4 linked regions of the Homo sapiens genome follow. The protein of the gene in region 3 interacts with the protein of the main gene of each other region in a pairwise test. Each region holds a gene or a part of one and is shown on either strand. Other genes may lie near its edges. The genes, in order: STK38, OR5H1, MOB2 and MIIP.

What was found.
Region 1: the proteins of MOB2 (region 3) and STK38 interact in binary tests that used the Homo sapiens proteins (3 or more experiments, as listed by UniProt).
Region 2: the proteins of MOB2 (region 3) and OR5H1 interact in binary tests that used the Homo sapiens proteins (3 or more experiments, as listed by UniProt).
Region 4: the proteins of MOB2 (region 3) and MIIP interact in binary tests that used the Homo sapiens proteins (3 or more experiments, as listed by UniProt).

What each region holds. Positions count from the first base shown.
Region 1 is NC_000006.12:36,522,886-36,531,062, reverse strand, and holds part of STK38 (serine/threonine-protein kinase 38), read left to right. Parts: intron 1-5,420; coding exon 5,421-5,472; intron 5,473-6,599; coding exon 6,600-6,722; intron 6,723-8,177. UniProt on the Homo sapiens protein: Serine/threonine-protein kinase that acts as a negative regulator of MAP3K1/2 signaling. Converts MAP3K2 from its phosphorylated form to its non-phosphorylated form and inhibits autophosphorylation of MAP3K2.
Region 2 is NC_000003.12:98,125,909-98,134,516, forward strand, and holds the start of OR5H1 (olfactory receptor 5H1), read left to right. Parts: upstream 1-4,812; 5' UTR 4,813-4,942; intron 4,943-6,771; 5' UTR 6,772-6,789; coding exon 6,790-7,731; 3' UTR 7,732-8,608. UniProt on the Homo sapiens protein: Odorant receptor.
Region 3 is NC_000011.10:1,475,994-1,484,170, reverse strand, and holds part of MOB2 (MOB kinase activator 2), read left to right. Parts: intron 1-3,284; coding exon of another isoform or gene 3,285-3,285; coding exon 3,286-3,446; intron 3,447-3,684; coding exon 3,685-3,778; intron 3,779-8,177. UniProt on the Homo sapiens protein: Stimulates the autophosphorylation and kinase activity of STK38 and STK38L.
Region 4 is NC_000001.11:12,028,749-12,032,973, forward strand, and holds the end of MIIP (migration and invasion-inhibitory protein), read left to right. Parts: intron 1-284; coding exon 285-393; intron 394-409; exon of another isoform or gene 410-474; coding exon 475-533; intron 534-1,016; coding exon 1,017-1,146; intron 1,147-1,279; coding exon 1,280-1,376; intron 1,377-2,517; coding exon 2,518-2,655; intron 2,656-2,792; coding exon of another isoform or gene 2,793-2,813; exon of another isoform or gene 2,814-2,973; coding exon 2,974-3,060; 3' UTR 3,061-3,297; downstream 3,298-4,225.

The sequences.
Region 1 (8,177 bases), on a different chromosome or scaffold from region 3:
ACCAGAGTGTAGAACTGAAGTAATTTGTTGAGATTTTAAAGAATCTGTGTAGTGTTAATTTTAGGGTATTTCTGGCTGGGTACAGGGGCTCACACATGTAATCCCAGCACTTTGGGAGGCCGAGGTGGGTGGATCACTTGAGGTCAGGGGCTCAAGACCAGCCTGTGCAACATGATGAAACCCCGTGTCTACTAAAAGTACAAAAATTAGCCACACATGGTGGCATATGCCGGTAATCCCAGCTACTCGGGAGGTTGAGGCACAAGAATCACCTGAACCCGGGAAGCAGAGGTTGCAGTGAGCCGAGATTGTGCCATGCACTCCAGCCTGGGTAACAGAGCTAGACTCTTGTCTCCAAAAAAAAAAAAAAAGAAAAGAAAAGAAAAAAAGGAAAAAGGCCGGGTGTGGTGGCTCACGCCTGTAATCCCTGTACTTTTTGAGAGGCCAAGGTGGGTGGATCACTTGAGGTCAGGAGTTCGAGACCAGACTGGCCAACATGGTGAAACCCCATCTCTCCTAAAAATACAAAAATTAGCTGGGCGTGGTGGTGGGCACCTGTAATCCCAGCTATCCGGGAGGCTGAGGCAGAAGAATCACTTGTACCCGGGAGGCAGAGGTTGCAGTGAGCCGAGATAGTACCACTGCACTTCAGCCTGGGTGACAGAGTAAGACTCTTGTCTCAAAAAAAAAAGTATTTATTAGACATTTTCTGAATTTTAATCATGGAGATGTAATCACAGCCCTTTCCCCTCCCCCTCCGCTCCCCTCTTCTCTTCCTGACAGAATCTCGATCTGTCGCTCCTCTTCTCTTCTCTTTTCTTTCTGACAGAATCTCGCTCTGTCACCCAGGCTGGAGTGCAGTGGCACGATCTCAGCTCACTGCAACCTCTGCCTCCCAGGTTCCAGAGATTTTCCTGCCTCAGCCTCCTGAGTAGCTGGGATTACAGGCACGTGCCACCACGCCCGGCTAATTTTTGTATTTTTAGTAGAGATGGGGTTTCACCATGTTGGCCAGGCTGGTGTCCAACTCCTGGCCTCAGGCGGTGTGCGAGCCTCAGCCTCCCAAAGTGCTGGGATTACGGGTGTGAGCCACCATGCCTGGCCCTATTTCTGTTAAATACACTATTTTTCCTGGTTTTCAGTGTCTCACCAAAATACTGTCTGTTTTCAATTAGGGTGGAATAGCCCTATTCTCTCATCCCTGCTACCTCCAAATCAGGCTATGCCAAGAGGGGACCCTAAATTAGATTAGAAAAGGGGGCTAATTGTAAGTAGTAGTCATGAATGTGTCTGCACATTGCTATACATTCTGACTTTTTAAAATTTAGCAGCATACATTTAGAAAGTAGCTGTGTACAAAGCACTATTCTTAGTGGACATAGGGAATTCAGATATAGTCCCTGCCTTCAGAAGGACTTACCACTCTCTCATATAAGAAATGAACACACACGCAACTAAATGGAACACATGGAAGGCATCACTGGGGTGAGGCTGGATATGGCCTCTAAGTGTGAAAGTGGCTTCGTCTCTCTCCTAGGGTTCTGGTTTTGAACATTGGAATTGAAGGGAAGAGTGGCTCCACCAAGGGCTGGAGTGTTAGTTAACCTGGCACTGCTACCAGAGAACATGCCTGTGTGGAGAGTCCTGCTATTCTTTTTCATTATGAACAATTTTAAACATAGGTGGAATAATATAGTGACCCCGTTTCAATATATTCATCCCTCAGATTTAATAATTTTAGGGCTTTGGTACATTTTCTTCATCTATCCCATTTTGTTTTTTCTTGCTATTGTGTTTTAAGGTAAATTCCAAACATCTGTCATTTTAATCCTACATACTGTCAAGTATGCATTTCCAAAAATATGGCCATTTTCTTGCATAATGCAAATGCCACCATGAATCTAACCAAGTTAACAGTAATTCCTTTGATGTCATCTCACAGAGGATGTCATTTTTAAGTCTCATTTCAGGCTGTCCTTGCTGTTTTTGGTGTCCTCAAGGTCTTTGTGGACCTGGTCCTAATTGTTATCATGGATAGGCTTTTTTTTTCTGGATACTTTCTCTAATGAAATAATCTGATTGTGTTCAAGGAGTTAACTTCACTCTCAGGCAGGTATTCTGCAACCAATTTAATTACACTTCAGTAAACCTGTGGAAAACCTCTTAGTTTGTATTTAGGTTTAAAATATAATTAGAAGGAGCCACTTTTGTGACACAGTGGATAGTGCATTGGACTGGTAGCCCATTCTGATGTAGTCATTCAAAAACGTGTAGTCAGGACGTATGATGGTGTTTAGTACTCAAGGCACAAAAAGAGCTGACCACAGCTGTGTTCTTAGAGCTTTTGCCTAGCATGTTATGCTTTGACTTTTCTTGTTCTTCTCTGCTTCAACTACCTAACCACTTGCAATGGAATTAATTTACACTCCCGAAACTACTAAGAGTACAGCCTTTTCTCTCTAATACATGTGCACGCATAGATGCACATGTATCCCAAAATATTCTGGGAACTGGGAGAACTGTTCGTGTTCCTCTCTCTGTTTCCTGTCTTGATTAGTGGCATCATATCCCTCTAGACAGGAAATTCTAAGGTTTTTCTCTTGACTCCTATTGCCAGTTGGTCATATTTGCAATAGCTCTATTCACTTCATTCTAGTTTTCCTGCCCTAGTTCCAGATCTTTACTGTACATCTGAATCATTACAATAACTCTCAACTAGCCTCTTTCTCAGTTGCTTTCCCTGCCAGTCCATCAGATCCTCATTACTGCTGGTTACCATTCTAAAATAGAAATCTTATCACATCACTCCTTTGCACACAAGCCTCTTTTAGCACTCAGTTGTCTACAGAATGAGATCCAACCTTCTTGGTGTGGCATTTGTAGTGCTGTGTGCGTCAGCCACAATGGACTACATGCTATTTCTGCAGCATACTGTACACTCTTTTTTTTTTTTTGAGATGGAGTCTCGCTCTGTTACCGAGGCTAGAGTGCAGTGGTGCGATCTCGGCTCACTGCAAGCTCCGCCTCCTGGGTTCACAACATTCTCCTGCCTCAGCCTCCCGAGTAGCTGGGACTACAGGCGCCGGCCACTACACCTGGCTAATTTTTTTTTTTTTTTTGTATTTTTAGTAGAGATGGGGTTTCTCTGTGTTAGCCAGGATGGTCTCGATCTCCTGACCTCGTGATCTGCCTGCCTCAGCCTCTCAAAGTGCTGGGATTACAGGCGTGAGCCACCGCACCTGGCCAGCATACTGTAGTCTTATCCTTCTTTGCTCTGTTTGTACACATTGCCTGTTTATCTGGAATGCTGATGAGTGGTGGAGGAGAGATTCTAGCCCATGTGCTTTCATTTATTGTGCTGAATAAATGAAGGTTCTGTGGAATTGGTTGTAAGGAAGTTTTACTTGCTTCTTTTAGTTTTATGAGACTATAGATCAAAAACATTACTGCATGTACTTTCTAAAGTTCAGTATTCCAAAAGTTTGATGTCTGAAGGTTTTTTTTTTCTTTGAGGCAGAGTCTCACTCCGACATCTGAGCTGGAGTGCACTGGTGTGCTCTCGCCTCACTGCAACCTCTGCCTCCCAGGTTCAAGTGATTCTTGTGCCTCAGCCCCTCCCAAGTAACTGGGATTACAGGCACCTGTCACTATGCCCAGCTAATTTTTATATACATATATGTGTGTGTGTGTGTGTGTACTAATATATATACATATATTACATATATGTGTGTGTATATATATGTGTGTATATATACGTATATACATATGTGTATATGTATATATGTATACATGTGTACATATATACATATGTATACATGTGTATATACATATAAATATATATATATATACATATATTTTTTTTTTTTTTTTTGAGACGGAGTCTTGCTCTGTCACCCAGGCTGGCATGCAGTGGCGTGATCTTGACTCACTGCAACCTCTGCCTCCCAGGTTCAGGCAATTCTTCTGCTTCAGCCTCCTGAGTAGCTGGGACTACAGGCGCTCGCCACCACGCCTAGCTGATTTTTGTATTTTTAGTAGAGACAGGGTTTTACTATGTTGGCCAGGCTGGTTTCGAACTCCTGAATTTATGATCCACCCTCCTCAGCCTCCCAAAGTGCTGGGATTACAGGCGTGAGCCACCACGCCCGGCCTTTTTGTTTTTTTTGAGACAGGGTCTCACTCTGTCACCCAGGCTGGAGTGCAGTGAGTGGTGTGATCTCTGCTCACTGCAGCCTCCACCTCCTGGGTTCAAGTGATTCTCCTGTCTCAGCTTCCCAAGTAGCTGGGATTACAGGGTATGCCACCATGCCTGGCTAATTTTTGCATTTTTAGTACAGACCAGGTTTCACCATGTTGGCCAGTCTGGTCTCGAACTCCTGACATCAAGTGATCCACCCGCCTCGGCCTCCCAAAGTGTTGGGGTTACAGGCGTGAGCCACTGCACCTGGCCTAATTTTTATATTTTTAGTAGAGATGGGGTTTCACCATGTTGGCCAGGCTGGTCTTGGACTCCTGACCTCAAGTGACCCATCTGCCTCACCTCCCAAAGTGCTGGGATCACAGGCGTGAGCTACCACACCCAGCCTGATATATGGAGTTTTGATAGTGGTGCCAGTCACCTTTTTGATCACTTTTTCCCCTTAAATTTCCAAATTCTGCTTTTAACTTTGTTGTTTGTTACCCTTTCCTCATGGCAGGGAAGAGGAGGAAGATGCAGAAATAAAGGAAGTAGACTTCAGTCAGAGAGAGGGAAAGAAACAGCATGATATAAGAGTTTATCAAATACCAGCTGTTTTGTGGTTTGGTAAGGAGGAAATAACTGGAAAAAAAAAAAAAAAAAAACACCCAAAACCAAGAGAGGACATTTTTTTGAAACAAGAGTCTTTGTTGCATTAACATCTTAGACAGTCTTTTAAAAAATGTAGACCTAAGGGCGGGGCATGGTGGCTCACACCTGTAATCGCAACACTTTGGAAGGTCAGGCTGGAGTTTGAGACCAGCCTGGGCAATATAATGAGACCTCATTTCTACAAAAAATTTAAAAATTAGCCAGGTATGGTGGCACGCGCCTGTAGTCCTAGCTACTTGGGAGGCTGAGGTGGGATTGCTTGAGCCTGTGAGGTGGAGATTTCAGTGAGCTGAGATTGCGCCACTGCATTCTAGCCTGGGTGACAGAACAAAACTCTGTCTCCTCTCCTCGCAACCTGCCCCCCTCCCCCCGCCAAAAAAAAGTAGGCCTAACAAAGGATGGAAATCTTTTTACTTGTCTTAGTAACTTAATTTTTTTTGTTTTAATGAGACATTTTGAGATTTACCTGTTTGTGTCATTTTTAAAAATCTACTACAGTATTAAGTTACAGAATTTTCAGAAAGTTATCATTCAGATGTGATTTCATGTCTTTTGTTTTTGTTTGTTTTAGACAAAAGAAGTTAGAAAAGGTGATGGAAGAAGAAGGCCTAAAAGATGAGGAGGTAATTAATATTGGCAATGTTTTCCTTAAAACCCAGCGTGGCAGGTTGTATCTTGTCCAGTGAGTTGTTAGCCTTGGTACACATGAGAAGGGTTTTGGCTCAATAACAGAGGAACTTGAGGGGTAGTGTGCTTCCGGATTTGGGTGTTAATTCAGAGGGACAGATTAATTATTAAGTACCTAGGAGAGGAAGGCTTCTCTAGATGCAGTTATAGTAAACTAGATTTAGAATTCCAAGAGAAAGCAGGGATGAAATCAAATTAAATTTTAAAAGAGCAAGTTGTAGCATTTTTATAGAATTCACTGAAAAGTCTCCGTAGGAGTAGGGCAAATTTTTGAAATATTTATTTATTTTACTTTTTCTGGGATACATACGTGTGCTGAACATGCAGGTTTATTACATAGGTATATATGTGCCATAGTGGTTTGCTGCACCTATCAACCTGTCATCTAGGTTTTAAGCTCCGCATGCATGAGGTATTTGTCCTAATGCTCTCCCTCCCTTTCCCCCCATGCCCCGACAGGCCCCGGTGTGTCATGTTCCTGAAATCTTTATTAAGGCAAAATATCCATCTCAAATCAGCCCTTCCACCCAGTGCCCACAGATACAGTAGGAGAAAATATAGTTAACAAGGGACTGTGCAAGGAACTGAAATGGTAGTGGAAATGCCTTCAAAAATAGGACTGGCTTGCAGAACCCAGGACGGTGGTGAAAAATACCCAATACTTGTAGAAATAACAGAAAGTTAGAGTATACAGTGTTTAAGCCAGAGGGAAAGATAAGAACACATTTTTAATTTATATTAAACAGGATAAAGGAAAATATTGTTGATTATTTATCCCTCCCTTCACCAAAAATGTTAGGATAGTGGATTGCTGAAGTAGGTTAGTCAGAGTTCCCAGAGGAGGCACCCATCTGTTCAGTGTGGCTTGGATGTTGTGTCTAAATGCCAGGAAAGGGAGAAGTGACCTCTTAAGGATCCTTCTGGGGTGATTTCATATGTGAAAAGATTATCCTTAGTCCACTTGGACCTGTTTTCTAGCTGGGTAAGTCACAAACATGACTTGTTACAGAGTTTCAGAATTTCAGTTCCTTCCCGTCTCCTCCCTTTTTTATTTAAATATTAGAAACGACTCCGGAGATCAGCACATGCTCGGAAGGAAACAGAGTTTCTTCGTTTGAAGAGAACAAGACTTGGATTGGAAGATTTTGAGTCCTTAAAAGTAATAGGCAGAGGAGCATTTGGTGAGGTAAAAATCACAGCTACTTGTCAAGTAGAAAAATATTGCAAAACTTCAAAGCTTCTAACATACCATTAAGTCATGATTGTTGATATAACAAATATATGGAATTAAATGAGTCAGGCATGCCAGCCCCACATCCTAATTGCTTTGTCTGTCTGCTTTCTCTTTTTCTTCTCTCCGCAGTCCCAGATCTCTGTTCTCTGTTTTGCCAGAGATGGTGTTGGTGTTTAAATATTGACTTAGGGGGAGAGTTGAAAGGTAGAAGGAAATCAACATTTATTATTTACAGGCTGCTTTTTTCCCATAATCAGGACAGTAACCCATTTTATAGATGGTGAAATTAAGACTCTAAAGGTATATATAATGTCTCTTGTTATCACACAGCCATTGAGTACTGGGACCAAAAGTTGGGCTCTACTTCCTGAACTCAAAGAGCTTGCTTTTCCCAGTACTGCACTGCCTCTCGAGAAGGAAACTAATAGTGTATCTCCACCCTTTATTTCTCCCCACCAGATTGATACAGCTCTAAAAAGATGACCCTAGGAGGGAGGATTTACAGAAAGGAGTTATATAGGTAGTGGTGGAGAGTTGAAAGCATTTGCGACTTTGTCCCCGCAATTCTTGGAAATGATCCTGCTTGGGCACAAGAGCAATCTGTTGGGGAGAGCTTGAAAGAGCCCATGCAAGGTCATTCCTGTTAATGAAAAATGCCCAAACTGGATGACCTACTGACGCAATAATTGCAAGTATAAAAGGAGCAGTATATTATTAAAACCTGGTACCCCGGGGCCAGGCACGGTGGCTCACTCCTGTAATCTCAGCACTTTGGGAGGCCAAGGCGGGCGGATCACAAGGTCAGGAGTTCGAGACCAGCCTGACAACATGGTGAAACCTTGTCTCTACTAAAAATAGAAAAATTAGCCGGGTGTGGTGGCACGTGCCTGTAATCCCAGCTACTCAGGAGGCTGAGGCAGGAGAATTGCTTGAACCCAGGAGGCAGAGGTTGCAGTGAGCCGAGATTGCACCATTGCACTCCAGCCTGGGTGACAGAGCAAGACTCCATCTCAAAAAAAAAAAAAAACAAAAAACCTGGTACCCCGGGGAAATGTGAATAGTATTCAGAGGCACAGGTGATAGATTGATCCCTCAGTGTTCAGAATTCCTATTGGCTTCTTGAAAGAGGGAAAAGTATAGTACCACCTCTGAAAGAGCTTTCTGTTTGGCAAGGAAGGGTTGTGGTACTCAATTAGGAAAAACATGAAGAAAGGTTCAGGGAGAAGAAAACCTACTTATTTTGGGAGAAGAGGGGAGGACATGCAGGAACTTGCAGTGAAATTTTTCTTTTGGTTGTAAATTTTCTTCATAAAATTATCTGTTTTCTTTAAGAACATTGGAAAACATAAAAGAGAAGGAAAACTACATAAAACACAATTTCCCTAATTACACATTTTGAATTTTCTT
Region 2 (8,608 bases), on a different chromosome or scaffold from region 3:
GTAATCAACTTGACATCTAGTTTAATGATTACAGATTGAGGACTCAGTGTTGGCTTCTTTTTCTGGTTGATTGAGCACCTCACAGTGGCCCTAGACAGGTTGGCTTTGGTAATTGGAAATCCATATAGCTAAGCCCAAGCAAACCTCCATCCCTATCACTAGAGCCACTTGAGACTAACTGGTATCATAGAATGGGTCATTCTATCCTCTTGATTATTAAAATCCTCAGGAGAATTTTAATAATCAAGAGGATACACTGGTGAACATCCACATGAGCTACAAACACTGTCTTTAGTCCACTTGTGCTGCTATAGCAGAATACCACAAAGACAGTAATTTACAGGAAACAAAAATGTACTTTTTCAGAGTTCTGGAGGGTAGGAGGTCAAAGACCAAGATGTCAAGATGTCATCAGAATGGATTTTCTGGTGAGGACTGCGATCTGCTTCCGAAATAGATCCTTCTTGTTGCATCCTCTGGAGGTGGAGAAACACTGCATCCTTATGTGGTCGAAGGTGGAAGGGCGAGCAAACTGAAGACTCTTTTACAAGGTCCTTAATACCATTGAAAATGGAAGCATCCCTGATGACCTAATTGCCTCTTAAATTTACAACATTTAGGAGGTAATTTAAAAGGTACCATCACATCGGTTGTTAAGTTTCAATACCTTAATTTTGGAGGTAAAACAAACATTAGCATACTGCTCACGGCCTCCCAAAATTCATGTCCTTTTCATATGCAGAACACATTAAATTCTATCTCAATAGCCCAAAAAGTTTTAGCTCATTTTAACATTAACTCAAAAGTCTAAAGTCTCATCAAGATATCAACTAAATCAGGTATGAGTAAGAACTAAAGGTATGTTTCATTCTGAGGTAAATTACTTTCTAGCTATAAACTTGTGAAATCAAACAAGTTACATGCTTTCAAAATACATGATGGGCCAAGCACAGAACAAATATTTAAATTCCAAAAGAGAGAAAAGAAGGAATAACAGGTCTCAAGTAAGTCCAAAATCCAACAGTGCAAACAACATTAAATCTTAAGGCTTCAGTATACCCTTGATGCCATGTCCCACTTTCCAAATACACCGTGTTAGGGTTGCATCAATAAGGCTCCTGGTTCCTTGCTTCTCTGTCTTTGTTGAGTGCATCCTACACTGCAGCTCCGATGGATTGCAGTCCAGTGCCTGTAGTTCTCCAGGATGCCACTGTAGCTAGTAGCTATACAGGTCTGAGGTCTTCTGGCAACTCTGTTTCCACAGATCTACTGAAAATTGCCCCACTTGGGAGTCTCTGTGGTGGCTCTGACCCTGTGACAGGTCTCTGCTTGGGTGTTGAGATTATCTAAGGCATCCTCCAAAACCTAGGTGGAGAAATCCATGTGTCCGTTCTGCAGGCTTGTGAATTAGCATCACATGGATGTCACCAAGGCTTACCAATTCTGCACTCTGGGGCAGTAGCTTGAGCTGCAGGTGGGCCCAACCTGAGACACAACTCAGCTGGCAAAGGAGTTCTGTGTCATAATGCAGAGAGCACAGACTTGAGGTGGCCCTGGGCAGTGAGTCCCAAGTTCCCCTCAAGGTCCTGGCACTCTGGGACTGTAATACACATGGCAGGCTTGAAGATATCTGAAATACCTTTGGAGTCATTTTCCCATTGTCTTGATGAATAGCACTTGGTTTTCTTCTTTTTATATTAATATCGTGATCAAATGGTTACTTGGCCACACCATTGACTTTCTTTTTGAAACGTACTTTATTATTCTTTACCTGGCCAGGCTGAAAATTTTCCAAATCTTTACATTCTCCTTCGTTTTTGATTACAAACCTCATCTTTCAATAGCTCCTCTCTCCTTACATTTACTATAAGCCATTAAGAGAAGCCATGCAGCAACCCTCAACACTTTGCTGCTTATATTTTTATAAGCAAATATTTTTATAATATTTTTCTGCCAAATATTATAATTCATTGCACTTAAGATTTGCCTTCCACAAAGTCCTAAGACACAGACACAATTCAGCCAAGTACTTTGCCACTTTATATCAAGGAGAGTGTTTCCTCTAATTTCCAATAACAGAGTCCTCATTTCCTTCTAAGACATCATCAGAATATTTTTTATCATCTGTATTTCTACCTACATTCTGTTCATGACCACTCTAGTAATCTCTAAGAAGAACGAGGCTTTCCCTAACGCTCTTCTCTTCTGAATCCTAACCAGACTTGTCCTTAATGCTTCATTCCTGAAAAATACAGGCTTTTTCCATCATTCACTTCAAAACTGCTGTAGCCTCCACTCATTACCTCTTTCCAAGACACTTCCACACTTTAGGTATTTGTTATAGGGACACTCCACTTCTTGGTACCTATTTCTGTCTTGACCTATTTGTGCTGCTATAACAGAATGCCAGAGACTAAATATTTATAAATGATGAAAATTTATTTTATTATAGCTCTAGGAGCTGGTATTTTCAAGATCCAGATGCTGACAGGTTTGGATGTCTCATAGGGGTCCCGTCCCTGCTTCTAAGATGGTGCCTTGATGTCTCGTAGGGGTCCCATCCCTACTTCTAAGATGGTGCCTTGAAAGCTCTTCTGGAGGAGAGGAACACTGGGTTCTCATGTGGTGAAAGACAGAAGAGCAAGGAAACTGAAGGCTGTGTGAAACCTTTTTTATAAGGGCTTTAGCCCATCAACAAGGAAAGAAGCCCTTATGACCTAAGCACCTACTAAAAGCCCCACCTCTTAATACTGTCACACGGGCCATTGTTTCAACACCTGAATTTTGGAGGGGAAACATTCAAACCATAGCAGATATCTACATAATTTATACCCAGTTAGAGACATCTCTCCAAGCACCTTCTCTCAAATATCCTTTTCACCAGTATTCTAATTATGCTCCTTCCAAGTCCCTGATCATCCAGCCTAACCATTAGTCATAGCCTATAAATTGATACATAATCACACATTTATTTATTTCTCCTTTTAAGCAAATTGGACAACCAAGTACATCAGTTAAAATTTTTCTAACTGGGAGGATTTCCCTTCACCATGGTCCTTCCAAAATGTCCCAGAAAGGAGCAGTAGTGCTGCAGCCACCCGCCTGAATATGGTGCACAACCATTTGTATCCAGGTCTGAGTCTTCTCTTCCACTGTCAATCGATTATAAGAAACTCCCTATGAAGCTATTGCTGAAGGCTTGCAGAGATAAGGCAGTGTAGCAGAAGTAGGGACATTAATAATTTACCTTTGCGTTAGTCCGTTAGTCTGTTCTTGCATTACTATAAAGAAATATCAGAGACTGGGTAATTTATAATGAAAAGAGGTTTAATGGACTCACAGTTGCACAGTCTGTACAGGAAGCATGGTTGAGGGGGCCTCAGGAAACTTACAATCATGGGGGAAGCTGAAGGGGAAGCATGTATGTTGTACATGTCCAGAGAAGGAGGAAGAGAGAGAAGGGAGGAGGTGTTACACACTTTTAAACAACCAGATCTTGTGAGAACTCACTATCATGAGAACCGAAAGGGGAAGTCCACCCCTATGATCCAATCACCACTCACCTGGACCCTCTCCAACATTGGGGATTGGAATTCAACATGAAATTTGGGTAGAGCAGCAAATCCAAACCATATCACCATCCATAATCCAAGTGCAGGCAATTTTATTTCTTTAATAAATACTTTTGCTGTCAAGAAAGGTACATGTCACTATTTAAATATGAAATATAAATATTACAAGTAGGTAAATTAGGTTTTCTTTTTTGAATGGATGCTCCTTAACATGTTATTCTGTTAATGCTCTAAAGAAAATTCTGAACATGCTATCACCATTTTCAAAATCGTTCAATAATAGTTCATTGGTTTTCCTGTAAGTTGGGGTAAAGAACATATCTTTGAACTACCCGACAAGGTCCCACCCATGCTGGCCTCCCTGAACACACTTGGTCCTTCCTGATTCTCTCTTTGCATACCAGCCACATTTATTATTTGTTGTTTCTTCAATGATCAAGGCTTTCTGATAATCTAGGTCTTCCCACCATGAAGACCTGTTGGATGCAAATGTCCACAGGCACTGCTTTGTTAAAAATAAAGGCTCTTGAGAGACCCACCCCAGAATTACTGAAACAGAATCTGCGTTTTGACAACATCACTAGGAAAATCATAGGCATTATAGTTTGAGAAGCACAGACCTAGGACACCTCCCACTGCAAGCCACTCCCTGGCTTTGTTTTACATTTGCTTTTTGTCTTCTTCCTAGTAAAATTTCCCATTGGATTTTAGCTTATAATGGGGGATCTAAATATATGTCTAAAATTTGCATGTCTGAAATTTGCATGGGAAGGACAATTGTATTTGAGGTTGCTCCCAAAGAGGATCTAGAACTTTGGCTTTATTAAAATTATGTTTTGGTTACTTCAAATAAGACTATACTAATTAAAGCACTAACAGTAAATTTTACATATAAACTAAAGTTTGAACAAATATGCCAGAAGTGTCATCCATGGTGGTAAATAGTAACATAAAGTGTTATTTCAATTGTTAAAACTAGAAGTGTCTACCATGAAATGATGTTTGTGATTCCAGAAGTTTGTAATGCCCTTGGGGACAACCTGAACTTACACTTGTGCAAATGCACAATGCCCATTAGAACAGCTTCAATTTGTCCTACAGGGAGTCCTCTGACACTGTTATGAGAATTTCAGTTTTTCATTCCTTTCTCTTCTGGCAAAAGACCCTAGTGGCACAACTGGGTCATTTATGTGCTCAAAGCATATTTAATAAACAACATTTTTCTATGCTTGGAAAAAGAAACCTTCAAAAAGAATGAATATGCCATGAATGGCTACCTGTATTATTGACATTGCTGTGCTACTGTATGTATTTTTGTTTAGAAAGCACAACGTGTTTAAAGGATATCCACAATTTCCTTCAATATATGGGTAAGGAAGAAATAACTTCTCTAATTTTTATTATAATTTATAGAAATGTTGATAATGCCATTTAATTCATTAAAATTTTAGATTGGGTAACAAGTTGTCATAATAGAAAGTCAGAAACTGGATGACTCTGACTGGACTATTTTTATATTTTAGTTTTATGACTCTAATATGGATAAAGAGTTATAAGACTGAATTTTTCCTTTAATATTTTGCTATTTTGTTAATCTTATTATGATGAGTTTATATAAATTAGGGCATTAAACAACTAAAACTTGGTTTAAAGATTCAGATAATAATGATTCTTAGAATTATTTCTTGGAATTATTCTGATATAAATACCCATTCCTCTGAATCAACCACATTCTCCAATTAAAACTTTTAAGGTGAGTCACTTACATATTAACTCCTGTATCCTTACACTCATGTTTGACAATAATTTGAGAGCTCACACTGTAAATTTTGTTGATGTGAATAAAGGTTGCATTAAGTAAAGTCCTGGTATTTTGGCTTTGGCTGCCTTGAAACCAATATCTTTTGTCCCTCTCTCCATATTCCAAATGTAGGATCAGTGTATTTAATTGGCCATCCTAGATCATGTCCCTTCACTTTAGATGTAAGAAAAATGGGAAAATGAGTTTCTAGTTCTTTTGGCAGTATGTTACCTCTGACAGCCACTATGATTTCGATGGCAAAAAAGGAGATCACACCTTGGCCATTTACAGGACATATGTCCACCTTGTTACCTCCTTAATATAACTTGCTCAAGTTGATTTTCTTGCCATTCCTTTTGGTTCTGTTTTACACTCCAAGGATGCATCATCTTTAACTATGCCTTTGACTGCCTTTGACTACCACAATGAATCCAAGCAATCATTTCTATTGAGCTCTAATAGGCTCATATTACTGATTGGAACACATCTAGTTGTCCAGATGATGCTCACTCCAAAAACTTGTCAGCACACCTGAGTTCTCAATGTTTAATATCCATCTTCCCAGTCACCAAGGGACTCCTCTCTCCTTCACTGACCACTTACTGCCTACAAAATATGTCACAGAATACTAGAGACTCTACATTCTGAATTCTTTAGAATCTATTTCTTTGTCTTACTGTCTCTTTCAATGTCATATCACACCAAGACCATACATTTAACATGCATTTGAATCCCCCGGAGGGTATTTTCAAAATGCAGATCCCCAGACCTAATTCCTTAAATAACTTCTACATTAAAACCTCATAACATATTTTTCATAAAAACTCACTCAGATAATTTTTATGTGTAATGTGATTTGGGATTGCCTGGGCCTTACTAACAAGTTTCTAATTAATATCCCTGAGTACAGTTTCTTCTTCTTGCAGCATATTTTCTACACTATCAAAAACTAAATTAAAAAAAATTAGGATGTAATTTCCCATCTTAAAATTTTTGGCACATGCTTATTGTATGAAGAATAAAGTTTAAGATACTTCACATGGCATTTATTTTATTTATTTTTAATTCAGACCGTACAAAAATCTTTCCTGTTGACATTGTATCATATGCCAGTCAAACAATTTTTCTACTGCACTCAATAGTGTCCATATAAATGTTGTGCATACAGAGAATGCCTCTTGTTTTACCTAAATCTGCTAATTACTGCACAGTTTCAAACCAAAATATATCATTTTTTCATGTCTTTATTGCAACAAATAGAGATTCATCAGCTATAGGACTGATCAAAAAATTGAGAGGGTTCTGATCATTTTAGGTTTTCCTTCAGCACCTCTTCCCCAATTTCAACTGATAATGCCATTGCAAATGTTCCCTTTCATTTGTTGCATTTTATTTTAGAGGGCATGCTGTGAGGACATGGAAGAGGAAAATGCAACATTGCTGACAGAGTTTGTTCTCACAGGATTTTTATATCAACCACAGTGGAAAATACCCCTGTTCCTGGCATTCTTGGTAATATATCTCATCACCATCATGGGGAATCTTGGTCTGATTGCTGTCATCTGGAAAGACCCTCACCTTCATATCCCAATGTACTTACTCCTTGGGAATTTAGCTTTTGTGGATGCTTGGATATCATCCACAGTGACCCCAAAGATGCTGAATAACTTCTTAGCTAAGAGTAAGATGATATCTCTCTCTGAATGCAAGATACAGTTTTTTTCGTTTGCAATCAGTGTAACCACGGAATGTTTTCTCTTGGCAACGATGGCATATGATCGCTATGTAGCCATATGCAAACCTTTACTTTATCCAGCCATTATGACCAATGGACTGTGCATCCGGCTATTAATCTTGTCATATGTAGGTGGTATTCTTCATGCTTTAATCCATGAAGGATTTTTATTCAGACTAACCTTCTGTAACTCCAACATAGTACATCACATTTACTGTGACACTATCCCATTGTCTAAGATTTCTTGTACTGATTCTTCTATTAATTTTCTAATGGTTTTTATTTTCTCAGGTTCAATTCAGGTATTCAGCATTGTGACTATTCTTGTATCTTATACATTTGTTCTCTTCGCAATCTTAAAAAAGAAATCTGATAAAGGTGTAAGGAAAGCCTTTTCCACCTGTGGAGCCCATCTCTTCTCTGTCTCTTTATACTATGGACCCCTTCTCTTCATTTATGTGGGCCCTGCATCTCCGCAAGCAGATGATCAAGATATGGTGGAGCCTCTATTCTACACTGTCATCATTCCTTTGTTAAATCCTATCATCTACAGTCTGAGAAATAAGCAAGTCACAGTTTCATTCACAAAAATGTTAAAAAAACATGTTAAGGTTTCATACTAATATCCTTTCTCTAATTACAAAAATAGTCACAAAATTATGCAAGTTAGAGGTACCTATGTTGTTTCCAGTGTTCAAACATTTTTGCAAGTACAACTGTTCTAGCACTTTAGTGAGCTAATGTTTTAGTACCTAATAAACTAATCGCAATATGTCTATATGTTATTCAAAAGCATTCAAGAAATTTTCATACTGTTCATAATAGAATAATGACTGTAGAAATCAAATAAAACTATTTAACAGTTGTATATGTTATTCAATGTGCATTTATAAATGCATTAATTGCTAAAATAGCCTAGTTTATCATATAAGGACTTGAGTATGATGGTTTTGATACTAATACTACTGAATTACCTGCGATATCCATCATATACCATAACTGAGGCAGATTTGTTTTTGAGTGAACAGAGGTAAGTCCCAATGATTCTGCTAACCATCAAGGTCTTCCATTTCATTATATTAGGAAAGGGTGAATTCTGTTTCTTGAAGGAAGTCAACTCGCAGGTCAGACAGAAATGGAAATGCAATGAGAAAAATAAAAATAGAAGGAATGAACAGTGAAGGCACTGCCATAGTGTAAGAGCATGCTCTTAACTCTATGTGCTCGTATGAGTAAGAAGAGGCAAGCTGCCTCTCACTTTCTAGGATGGCTTCTAAGGCCCTTCCCAGCTATGATTATATGATTTTAGACAACCTGGAAGCCTTCCCTAATTCAGGAAATTAAAAGATTAAATAGAATAACTGCATTTGGAGTAGACATAGAGAAGAAATAAGTATCATAAAAGAAAGAAAGTGGTCTTAATGTTTTTATGATGAAGCTACCAAGATGTGTAAAAATCAATAATATTGCAAGGTTGTTGGAATGTGTTGTTATCAACAA
Region 3 (8,177 bases):
CCATAGCAAGCGTGCTCTGGGCGAGTGGGGGTCTCTGAGCCTGGAGCACCCCATTCCTGTGGGCCGTGGGGCCTGGCCAGGATTCCATCCCTGTGATAATGAAGTTGACACTCGTGGCAAAGGTGCAGGGCACTCGGTTGTGCTGTCCTCGTCCCTCAGGGCGGATGAGGAGTGGGCGGCTCCCAGCCCACTCCCCAGCTCCCCCTGCCTGTGAAGCAGTGTGCACCTGCTGTGGGCAGGGTGAGACCCCCTGTGTGTTGACTGTGTGGTTGTCTAAGTTTTCCACGGGAGCCCAGCAGCTCTGATGCCTCCCTGTGCCCCTTCCCTTGCCCACCAAATTTGTGTCTAGCAGGGATTGCCTCACTTCCCAGTAGGGATCAGTTACGTGCTGGGTGCCAAGGAGGCCGACTGGCACGTCATGGGTACCACTGGCGAGAATGGGGAGGGTGGCATTTGACAGGCTCTTAAAGGACCAGGAGAAGTTTGCTAGGCCTGGTGTAAGATGGGCAAGTTGGCAGAGCAGCAGCTGGTGCCCACAAACAGGGTGCAGACCCCTGTGGCAGGCAGGACAGGTCATCTAGAGCAGGGAGGAGGGAGGTGAGGCTGGTGAGTGTGTGGGAGGCAGGAAGGAGGTGGTTCCATCTGGCCCGGCCCTCCTAAGTGCATGGTGCCTGCCAGGCAGGACCCAGGCTCAGAGCCCACCTGTTGGAATAGTGTGAGGGACTTTGTTTTGGGGGCTGTGCACACAGCATCTGCCCTTCTGCTTCTTCCAAGTGGTCACGGAAGCCCTGTGGGTGGGCTGAGGTCCAGGGTCCACTCCCCAGTCCCTTCAGCGCCATCTCTGTCCTGCCTGCGGCCGGGGCCTGCTCCCACAGTCCTCCCTCCACATCGAAGGACTTGGTCTTTCTGTGCCCCGGGGCTCCTAGCCAGCAGCACAGGGGGAGCTGGGAGCAGGGCGCAGGGCCTCGGCACTTCCCTGGGTGAGGGGCAGCTGGGCCACTGAGGCAGTGACTGGGCAGACCTCTGGGCCTGGACGGCACAGAGCCTGTTTCAGAGCCTGTGAGCCTGCGGGGGGCGCCGCAGAGGTGTTTTCTCCACTGGGCAAAGCCAAGAATGACTAAGGACGAGAAGAGTGCCATGGAGGTGTCGTGTGCTCTGAGGCCTCCTCGGTAGCTGCCGCTGGCTTGGACCGAGCAATGGGCTGCCTCAGAGTGACTGCTTCCTGCCCAGGCCTGGGCCTTCGCTGAGAGCCTGCCCTTCTGGGAAGGAGGGCACTTGAGGTCAGGGAGACGTGGGTGCTGCCAGGCGTTCGGGGCTTTCCCATGGAAGTCCCTCTGTTGGTGCCCGCACAGCCGTTCCTGGAGCAGAGGCCATGTCCTGCGCGTCCCCTTGGTCCTACTACCTTTGGGCCAGTGCCCGTCCACCTGCCCCATGGGAATGAGTGACCCGGTCCAAAGAAGGTAGGCTTGCAGGAGGCTTGTCTCACAGTGCACTAAGCTCCGGGGCCCGGCCAGCCCTGGGTGCTGGGGACAGGGTGAGACTGGGGGAGCAGCTCGGGGAGGCCCAGCCTGGAGGGCCTCGTGCGTACTTTTCTTCTGTGTTCTAGGAGAGCAGGTGTGGACGGGAAGAGGCAGGGAGGCTGAGGTGCCAGTGCCGGAGTGGCGGCTGCTCACTACCTCCTGACCACAGCCAGAGCCTGGGAGAGGGAAGCCAGGTCTCCAGGTTCTGCCCCTGCCCAGCCCTCTCTGAGGACCGGAGGTGGAAGGTAGCCCCAGCCTGGAAGGCTGGCAAGGGGGCAGGAACTGCCAGTAGGGCAGCCTCCCTGAGTGGGCCCTGGGGCACACCCTGAGAGTGAGCGCGCTGACAGCTGCTCCTGCTGGCAGCCCTGCGTGACCGACCACCAGGTAACTGCCACCTGGAGCTTGCCAGTTGACACAGCTCCTAAGACACAGAGCAGGGAGACGGCTTGTAGCCCGCTTGGCAGCCTGGGCCACTGCAACCCACCCCTCCAAATGGGAAGGCCGAGCCCAGGCTGTAGCTGCCCGGGTGGGGTGTGGTGTGCTGTGCTGTGAGAGCACAGGGCAGGGAGGTGCAGGCCCACCTGCCGGTGGTCAGGGCCAGGCCCAGCGTCATGGGGAGAGCCTTCCCTGTGGTGGACACGCTGGGCATGGCCTGGCACAGGCTGGTGTGGAGTCTGGGTGCCTCGCTGTGCTGGGGCGAGGGGCTGCAGGCTACACGGAAGCTCACCCTGTCTGTCCCACCCCTGTACTGTGAGGACCCCAAGTGCCCACGCTGCATGTGGCCCATCCACACCTGTGCTTCCTCTTCCTCAGACCCCACGCCCTGTGCTCTGGAGAGATGGCAGAGTGGGAGTGCCAGGGCCCAGGGGCCCTGCCCCTGCCCCTCCCTGCCCCTGCCCCTGCCCCTCCCTGCCCCTGCCCCTGCCCCTGCCCCTGCTCCTGCCCCTGCTCCCTGCCTGGCTCTGGCTACTCCCAGCACTGCCCCCAGAGGCCTGCGCTGGTCTCCTTTTAAGGCGAAGATCTGCTGTGAGAAGCTGAAAGGGAAACATTTCCCTGGCATTCAGGGAGCATTTTTCCTTTCTCTTTCTCTTAAATAAACCATTAGCAACTTTTCAAAACAAGAAAGAAAAAAAATAAGGACAGGGTCAGGTTGCCACAAAGACCTTTGGCCCCCATCCTCATCACCCTGTGGCCTCCCCAGGCCTGGTGGACAACAGGGATACTGGAGCTGCAGGCCAGGCTGCCGCCTGATGCCAGGGGCCCCGTGCTCTCAGGCTGGCCAGGAAGGCAGGTGCCCTGCACAAGGCCTGTGGTATGTTTTCACCGGGGCCACCAGCGGCAGGGGCAGGGACAGGCTGGCCAACTCAAAAGAAGCCAGGAGTGAGAGGGTTTGCTTCTCCTTTCCTTCCAAGAGCACTGGAAAACTGGAAGGTGGGCGCTGGGGGCCCTAAACCCTGGGCCCCTCCCTGGTTGGAGGACTTGGTGAGGGGTGAGGATGCCCTCCGTGCAGGGGCCCGTGTGGCAAGTGGGAGCGCCAGCCCTTCTTCCCAGGAGGTGCCACGCAAGGCAGCTCCACTGGCCCCTCTGCGGAGCAGCCTCACCGTTGGTGTCCCGTTGGTGTCCTTTGAGCCTGGCAGGGAGGCAGTGTCGCCCCGATGGGCTCGGGCAGCTCCCTCTACACCTGCGCTGGCCACAACTGACCCCCCGGGCAGACCCTGGGTCTGATGGGCGTGTAGTGACCACACCGCGTCTCCTCTCTTGGCAGGAAGTCCAAAGCCAAGCCTAATGGCAAGAAGCCCGCTGCGGAGGAGAGGAAGGCCTACCTGGAGCCTGAGCACACCAAGGCCAGGATCACCGACTTCCAGTTCAAGGAGCTGGTGGTGCTGCCCCGCGAGATTGACCTTAACGAGTGGCTGGCCAGCAACAGTGCGCGGGGGCCTGGGGGCGGGCCCCCTCCCTCCTCCCTGCTCCTCCTCGAAGCCCCTCCTCAAGGGGGACCCCCACGGCTGGTGCTCAGCAGCCCCCTGCCGCGAGGGGAGAATGTGGCCCGTGGACGGGCAGAGCTCACCCAGCCGAGCTCCTGCACCTGTTGCTGGAAGCAGGGGTGGACGGGGCGGCTCAGCTCTGGCGTTTTTCACATCTGGCTCCTTCTCTTCTCTTCCAGCCACGACGTTTTTCCACCACATCAACCTGCAGTATAGCACCATCTCCGAGTTCTGCACAGGAGAGACGTGTCAGACGATGGCCGTGTGCAACACGTGAGTGCTGCCTGGCTACAGCCCACTTTCTCTTGGGAGACTCGGTGGGGCTCTGAGCCCCCGCTGCCCCAGGCTCCTGTCCTCTCAGATTCCGTTCTCACCTGGAGACCCTGAGAAGTCTTGGCACAGGCCTTCCACAACATCCACCTTCCTGTGGAAAGGCCACAGGCTGGGCCAGTGGCCCAGCTACCCAGGTCCCCAGTGGGGCCCAGAAGGTGCAGGAGCTGGTGGGGGTTGATGGGCTATGTTTCTAGGGACAGAGACGTTTCCAGAAGGAATGCCCTAAGATTGCAGAGAGCCCTTCTCCGCTGGCTCCCGTGACAGCTCTGGATGGGACAGTGAGGGCTGGGCTGGGCAGGCCACAGGTCCTTGCTCGGCCATTCATTTCATGGGGGCTCAGTTACCTTCTCCGTGACCATCCAACATGCCTGGTGCTGGTAGCTCTCTCCTGGAAGCACTGCACCCTGATTTCCTCAGTAAATGGGTGTCCGTTAGTGGCCCTGAGCACCTCACTTGCGTAGCATGGGAAGGAGCGCCGCCAGGCCTGGGTTGCTGAAAGCAGCCTTGGAGGCTGCAGGCAGGAGGAGGCTGGGTCTGCTGGGCTTAGCCTGGGACATGTGCGGCTGAGGAGGGCGGAAGCTTTTCCCTGATGTCCCGTTGTTGTCAGTGCACACAGGTCAGGGACAGAATGTGTGCCTGTGAGTGCGTCCTGAAAGTCATCCTGCCCACAGACATGGCTTTCCTGGCCCTGGCACAGGGAGACGTGGTCCCCAGACAAAGCTGAGTTCTGCCTTCAAGAAGCCAAGGGGAGCTTCTGCACAGGCAGCTGGCAGGCGTCCCCTTGGCTTCAGTCCTGCTGGGCCCTGCCCTCATGGCCATGATGGGTCACAGCTTGGTTTGGTTATGGGTGACACCGGGGCAGGTACAGACAACAGCTGGCTTCACTGTCTTAATTCCCCAGGAAAATGAGGTGTCACAGCCAGGCATGGCCCAGGAAGATGGGGACAGTGCTTATGGCTTTGAGGGGAGCAAGCTCAATGTGAGACGGCGGTGGCCTCCATGGATCAGGCATGGAGATGGGTCCTGAGGTGGCAGGGCAGCACCCGAGAGCTACTCGAGAGCCTTGTGTCCACTGTGGCTCTGGAGCCACCTGTGGCCAAGTGCTGGCTCAGCGCCTCTGCTCCTGGGCAGACGGGGCCTGGCACCCTTCCCAGAGGCTCTGCTCCTGCATGTTCTGTGGTACTGGGTTGGTTTGGAAAAGGGGTCCTTGGAGGAGTGTAGGATGTGGTGTTGGGCAGACCTATGTCCCCTTGGAGGGCCTAGGCCACCCAGATTTGCCTCTTGGTCCTTCTCATCTGGAGCTGGCATCATGGTGGTAGTAGATGTGTGTGAATTAATTGCATGTAATGCCTTTCCAGGAATCCTTTCAAACCAAGGGACAGAAATCCACTCAAACTAAGAGAAACATGGAGACTTCTCAGAGGGCCTCAGGGCCACTTGCCACCCAAAAGACCAGCAAGTCTGCCTGGGTCGTGTGAGGGCTCTGGGATTGAGGCGCGTCTCCTCCCTGCTAGGGCCTGTAGGACAGTCCCAAAAAGGCTGATGTCTGACTCCTAGGGAGACGAGAAAGGGGGCGGGGCCGGAAACACATTGCAGCAATAATGGCTGAGAACTTCCCACAAAGACACAAACCTGCAGACTTAAGAAGCTAAGCAAACCCCAAATAAGGCTCACAGACACGTGCAGATGCATGCAACCAAATGCTGAGAACTGGGGGCAAAGAAAAAGCCCTTGGCAGCCATCCTCTGTCAGCAGTCAGACGGCGGTGGCCTGGTACTGACAACAGATGCCGCAGTGAATGACCGTGGCACTTTTAGAAACCCAGGAGGCCAGAAGGAAGAAGGAAGCCCCACACATCTTCCAGTGCTGGGAGAAAAGAAAGGTCATCCCAGAATTCCACATCCAGTCAGTGTCCAAAGTCACTCAAAACCAAGAGCCCTCACAGCCAGCAGACCTGTTCCAGAGGCTCCCTGCAGAGTTCTCCCAACAGGAGGGCCTCCTCCCACTGAGTGTTTGTGGAGACGCCAGTGATGGTGCAAGAAGACAAGAGTAGTGTCCGGCAGTGCCTGTGCAGTGCCGTTCCCAGGGCGGCCGTGGGGCCTGTGCAGTGCCATTTCCAGGGCGGCCGTGGGGCCTGTGGTGGCGGTGGGGCTGTGGCGGCTGTGGGGCCTGGCGGCGGTGGGGCTGTGGGCAAGAGAGCTGCTATGCTCCAGTGGAAGCACATGTGTGGGTGCCATGGAGAGCATGTGGGGTTGAGTTGCGTGTTACAGCCCTTTGAGCAGGCCTTGCAGAGCTTATGTGAAGAGACGCAGTCAGAATCAGAATAGGTAAATTTAAATGAAATACAAAAACATTTCAGTGGCCCAAGAGAAAGCAGGAAAGAAGAAATACCATAAGGAATGAGAAACAGAGGCAACAAACAGCAAATAGTGGAAAACCTAAATGCTAACAGATGAACAGACGGGACTGGGCAGCTTATGAGAATGTATTTTTAAAATAACCAACTCTCTGGTGTTTACAAGAAGCTCATTTGTTGTATTTCATTCGGGATGCTGTCACGAAACATGATAGGCTAGGTGGCTTGTGAACAACAGAATCTTATTTCTTGCGGTTCTGGAAGCTGAAAGTCCAAGGTGAAGATCCACTGTGGACCAGGAAGGGGGCACTGACCACGTCACTGGATCTGATTAGCCAGATTCAGTGTCTGGTGAGGGTCCCTTTCCTGGTCCACAGACAGCACCTTCTTGCTGGAAGGAAGGCAGGGCGACGGAGCCACCAGTTCTGTTCATGAGCGTTCTACCCTTGCAACCTCATCGCCTCCCAAAGGCCCCATCTCCAGATACCCTTGCGTCTGGGGTTAAGCTTTCAACATAGGAATGTGGGGCATAAGCACCCTGTGTGTCACACCACTCTAGGTGCTGTGGTGCAGGCGGGTGAGAAGTAAGAGGACAAGATGTGCTGAGAAAACACCCATCAGAAGGAAGCGGAAGTGGCTATGTCAGTGCCAAAGGAGACTCCGAGGAAGGAAGTGACCAGGAATAAGAAGGTTATCTAATTAGAAAAGGAGCAGCTCTTGAAGAAATCCTGCCATAAATGTGTGTGCGCCAGACAACAGGGCTTTCCACACAAAGCAAACGGACGGCCTGTGTAGAAATCACATGATCGCCGGGGATTGCAGCCCTCTCCTCAGTGATGGAGCCTCATAGACAGTCAGCGAGAGCACGGAGCCCGATGACCCCACCCGTGGGTTGGATTGAAATGACACATGCACTGCAGCCTCAACAGCAGAACACCCATCTTTTCAACTTCACAAAGATTAGCCACCAAGATGGAGCATACCTGTCACAAAAGAGCCCTTAACAAATTTTAAAAAATCAAAACCATACGAAGTAAGTTTTCTGACCATGGTGGGGTTAAATTAGAAATCAGTAACAGAGAACAGGAAAGTCTCCAAACACTTGCAGACTAATACAATTCTGAGTAGTCCATGGGTCCGAGAGGATGCCTCAACAAAAAAACTTTAACAAACTGTACACAGGAAAATACAGCATGTCAGAATTTGTGAGACATAACTCAAGCAGTGCCTAGAGGGGATTTATAGGATTAATGCTTTCTTAGAAAAAGAAGATGACTTTCAGTAATCTACGTTTCCAACTTAAACTAGAAAAAGAGCAAAATAAGTCAAAATCAAGGACAAGAAAGTAAATAAGAACAGAAAGCACTGAGATTGATTTTTAAAACAATAGGGGAAATGAGTGAAATCAAAATGTGATGACTTTGAAAGGTAATAAATTGGTAAGCCTTTAGTAGGTACAAAGATAAGAGAGAAGATGCAATGATCAATAAAAAGGAGTGAGTGTCACTAAACCCTGTGGATGTAAAGAGGAGTATCACTGTAGACCCAGTGGATGTTAAAAGGATAATAAGGAAGTATTGGAAAAAAACCCTCTGTGCACATGAATTCTATGGCTTGGGTTAAATGGACCAACTCTTTGGAAAGCGCAGTATATCAGAACTCGCCTAAGATAGGCAGTGCCATAAGGTAAGAAGAAAGAATAAAAGGCATCCAAATTGGAAAAGAAATAAAACAATAAGCCCCCCTTATCTACAGTTTCCGTTACCCACAGTCAACTATGGTCTGAAAATAGTTAATGGAAAATTCCCGAAATAAACAGTTAATAAGTTTTCAACTGCATGCTGTTCTGAGCAGTGTGATGCGGTCTCCACCGTCCTGCTCCAGGTGTGCCTCCTCCTCCCTCGGCCCAGCTGTGCCTCGGCCCCCGTGTGGATCCACTGCCGCAGTGCCAGGGTGCTCGTGCTCAGGTTGCTCTTATGTGAC
Region 4 (4,225 bases), on a different chromosome or scaffold from region 3:
TCTGTCTAGTTCCTGGCACATGAAACAGCATCTAGCCCTGTCATAAGGGCTCTGTCGATATTTTTTCCATGGATGGTTGGCTATGCATCAGGGTAGACAGACACTGAAACCAACCAACAGTCCCAGTGACTGGAGGGGCCCTCCTGGCCTGTTTGAGGCACAGTAGGGATGAAGCAGGTGGCCTGGGGTGCCAGGGCTGATCGTCTCTCCAAGCCTTGGCCGGTGGCCACACAGCAGCCCCCAGCCCCTCTCCCGTCAGCTGCCTGGTGCTTTGCCCACACCAGGGTCTCTGGACACCAGCTCTTCCATCACCAGCCAGCCTGAGGCCTTCTTCTCCAAGCTGCAGGAGTTTCGGGAAACCAACAAGGAGGAGTGTATCTGCAGCCATCCTGAGTGAGCAGGGGCGGGCGAGGGTGGGCGAGGGCGGCTGAGCGGCTCCATCCCCCGGCCTGCTCATCCCCCTCGCCCTCTCAGACCCCAGTTGCCAGGCCTGCGTGAGAGCAGTGGCAGCGGCGTGGAGGAAGACCATGAATGTGAGTGCGGGCCCTCGGCTAGGCCGCTGAGTAGTCCAGCCTCGCGCTGCCCTGGCCTCCCCTGCCCCAGAGCAGTCCCATTTGAGGTTTGGGGCCTGGGGAGGCCCCTGAGATGTTGAGACTCATGGAGGGAGGCCTGCAGTCTGGACAGGGTGGCCAAGCCCTGGTAGGGGTGGAGTGAGCTAAGGCCTGGCCACCGAATTAGGGGCTGCCCTGTGTGGCACCATCCCACCCTCCCCAGCAGTGCCCCTGTGCTGGTGGGACTCCATCCCAGCTCCTGAGGGCCCCAGGAGGATGTCCCTCCCCACCCCTTAGGGCGTGGGCCCCAGGTTCTGGGAGGAAAGGGGTTAGGAGGAAATGGGCCGAAGGGCTTCCCAGAGGGATTGGCAGCTTGTGTGGTTGGGGGCCGCTGAGGGCAGCACGGAGCCTGGGGACCTGGGTTCCTGGCTCAGGGAGAGCTGTGGCTTCTCATGGGCCTCGCAGGCGTGTACTGTTACCGTGTCAACCGGCGCCTGTTCCCGGTGCCTGTGGATCCCGGTACCCCCTGCCGCCTGTGCAGGACACCGCGAGACCAGCAGGGCCCTGGGACCCTGGCGCAGCCAGCGCACGTCAGGTGAGTGACCAGAGTATTGGGACACCTTGGGGGACAGAGCCTGAACCACTGGTTTTAAGAAAAGATGGGCCTGGGCGTGGGCCCCCAACCGCTGGGAGGCTCCTCAGGGGTCCCCCACTGCCCCCCTGCGCAGGGTGAGCATCCCGCTGTCGATCCTGGAGCCCCCGCACCGGTACCACATCCACCGGCGAAAGAGCTTTGACGCCTCTGACACACTGGCCCTGCCCCGGGTGAGCAGCCACGTGGGGCTGGATGGTGATGAGGGCGGGGCTGGCTCAGACTGGCCCAGATCCCCAGGGAGGGTCACAGAGCGAGACTGGGCTCGACAAGGGTGAGCGCCCAAGTCTCTGGAGCACAGCCTGGGCCTCTTCCATCACCCACACCTGTACCTAAGGGAGGTAGGACCCCCGCTCCACGTACCCCGGTGCTTCCAGGGTGATCTGCCTGCAGGCTGGCATGACATGAATGGGTCCTGTTTATTGCGCTTTTGTGTACTGCAGGCACAGTCCTTAGGGGGCTTATCTCATGGAGCCCCCACAGCAGCCAGGAGTGTAGGCACTGCTGTACCCCCACCCTGCAGGTGGGGAGACCGAAGCAGAGGGGGAGGCGCCTTGGTGGAGGAGCTGGGATTCGAACCTAGGTCTCTGTGCTGCTGCTGCTGCTTTTTTTTTTTTTTTTTTTTTTTGAGACCGAGTTTTGTTCTTACTGCCCAGGCTGGAGTGCATTGGCATGGTCTCAGCTCACTGCAGCCTCCACTGTAGTCCCAGCTACTTGGGAGGCTGAGGTGGGAGGATCGCTTGAACCTGGGAGGCAGAGGCTGCAGTGAGCTGAGATCTCGCCACTGCACTGCAGCCTGGGTGACAGAGTGAGACTCCATCTCAAAAAAAAAAAAAATGTCCTTTCCTGTGTCTCCAGGTCGGGATGGGGTGCCAGTGGCAACTCCCCCTGACTCCTAAATTGAGAGTAGGGCAGCTGGGGTCAGAGGAGGAGAAGGATGCAGAGGAAAGTCAGTTTGCTGGTCCGTAAAATGGACATAACAGCGCCATCCTCAGGGATGTTGGTGGTGAGGTGGGGCTGTTGAGTGAAGCAATCCATGCAGGTGCTTGGAGAGCCTACAGCAGGAAGTACCCTGTGAATGTCACTGTCACCGTCCTATCCTCCTCCCATTTCAGCTCTCAGGGCCCCAGGGATGGCTGGATCTGCCAGGATAAGAAAGGGGAGAGCTGGGGTAGTCTTGTGGGTAGACACAGGCCCTGCCTTGGTGGGGGCCTCCTTCCTAATGGGGGGCACAGTTCCTCCCTGATGGGGGTGTGCCCAGTCAGCGGGGAGCTTGTCCCAGGTCAGGCACTTTTAACTCCTTGCCTTCCACAGCACTGCCTGCTGGGCTGGGACATTTTTCCTCCGAAGTCTGAGAAAAGCTCAGCCCCCAGGAACCTGGACCTCTGGTCCTCTGTCTCCGCTGAGGCCCAGCACCAGAAGCTGTCCGGCACCAGCAGCCCTTTTCACCCGGTACGGTCCAGATCGCATCCTAGCCTGGGGTGCCCCCTAGAGGGACAGAGACCTCGCAGCAGGCCTGGGGACTGCAGAGCCTCCTGGGGGGTAGGATTGAGGTGGGGAGGATGGAGCCTGGGAGTGTCTCTCTGCAGGGTCCAGCCCTCCAGCCCTGACCCTAGCCATCCCTCGGAACTCCTCTGCTCCCTGCCGCCTGCCCTGCTCCACCCAGGAAGGCCACCCTGACTGCAAGATCCAGGAGGGAATGTGGCTGGAACTGGGGATGACCTGTCCCTTTCAAGTGGCCCCCCTGAGACTTCCCTATTCCCCATCCAGGCCTCACCAATGCAGATGCTGCCCCCGACCCCGACCTGGTCAGTGCCCCAGGTCCCTCGGCCCCACGTCCCACGGCAGAAGCCCTGAGGACTGACTCCTGGGGGAGAACAGCATTCCCGCCGCCTCCAGCCTCTCCCCTCTGGCAGGCGCACCCAGGAGATGGAATCCCCTGCCCGCCCAGCTCAGGCCCAGCTGTCCTAGGTTGGGCAGGTGGGTGGACCCAAGCTTGTCTGCTGCCTGAGTTCCAGAGAGGGAGGACCCTGGGGTGGAGGGTGAGGGATTCTGTGGAAGTTTGTAAATAAAGCTCAGTGCTCTGCAGCTCAAGTCCCACGTGTGCTGGTTCCATCCTGCTAATGCACTTGAGGCCCAGAAGGCACTCTGGCCTCTCAGCCTGCCCTCCTGGCACCTGTGGAAGGAAGATACTGCAACCACTGGGACTAGGCAGTGTGTGTCCGTCACCATGAGGGTGGCTCCTTCCGCAGATCCCCAGCTCTGGGTAGTGGCCTCCACCAGATGGGGGAGGGGGGGCCCCTGGGCAGGCTGGGCCAAGGTTATTAAAAAGTCATTTTAGCGAGGGCCTCCGCTGAAGCCGTGAGTCGTGTTGAGTGACTGAGCTCTCTCCTTCCTGGTCCCAGAACCGGGATCCATTGATAGAAGGGCTCTCTGGAAGTCCCTGGGGTCACATGGCTCCTCCACCCAGCCATGGGAGCCGCAGGTCATTCAGAGCCCCAGCAGGGACAGATGAGGAAACAGGGCTGGGCGGTGAGTTGGAGGCAAGGTTAGCAGAGAGCCCAGATGTCCAGTCTGGGAGAGTAGGCAGTGCCCTGTCCTTCACTCACCTCTTGTATGTGTTGGTTGCATAATATGAAATTCTTGTTTTTGTAAGTGGAATAAATGCGGAAACGAGGCATGAACTTTCTCTAAGGTTTCTCGGCTTAGAGATGGAACTGGGCTATGCTGTCCTGGGGCTTTTTCCTGGAGTTTATGAAGCTATAAAAACCTTTCCCTCTCTCTGGAGAAACAAAGTCTGTTTGAGTCCCTGCTTTCCATTATTTTGGGTATACAGAAGTGGAATTGCAGGATCAGAAGGTGATTCTATGTTTTTTTATTTTTGAGACAGGATCTCACTTTGTCACTCAGGCTGGAGTGCAGTGGGGCCATCTCCGCCCACTGCAGCCTCGACCTCTTAAGCTCAAGTGATTGATTCTCTTGCCTTAGCCCCCTAGGTAGCTGGGACTATAGGCGCGTGCTA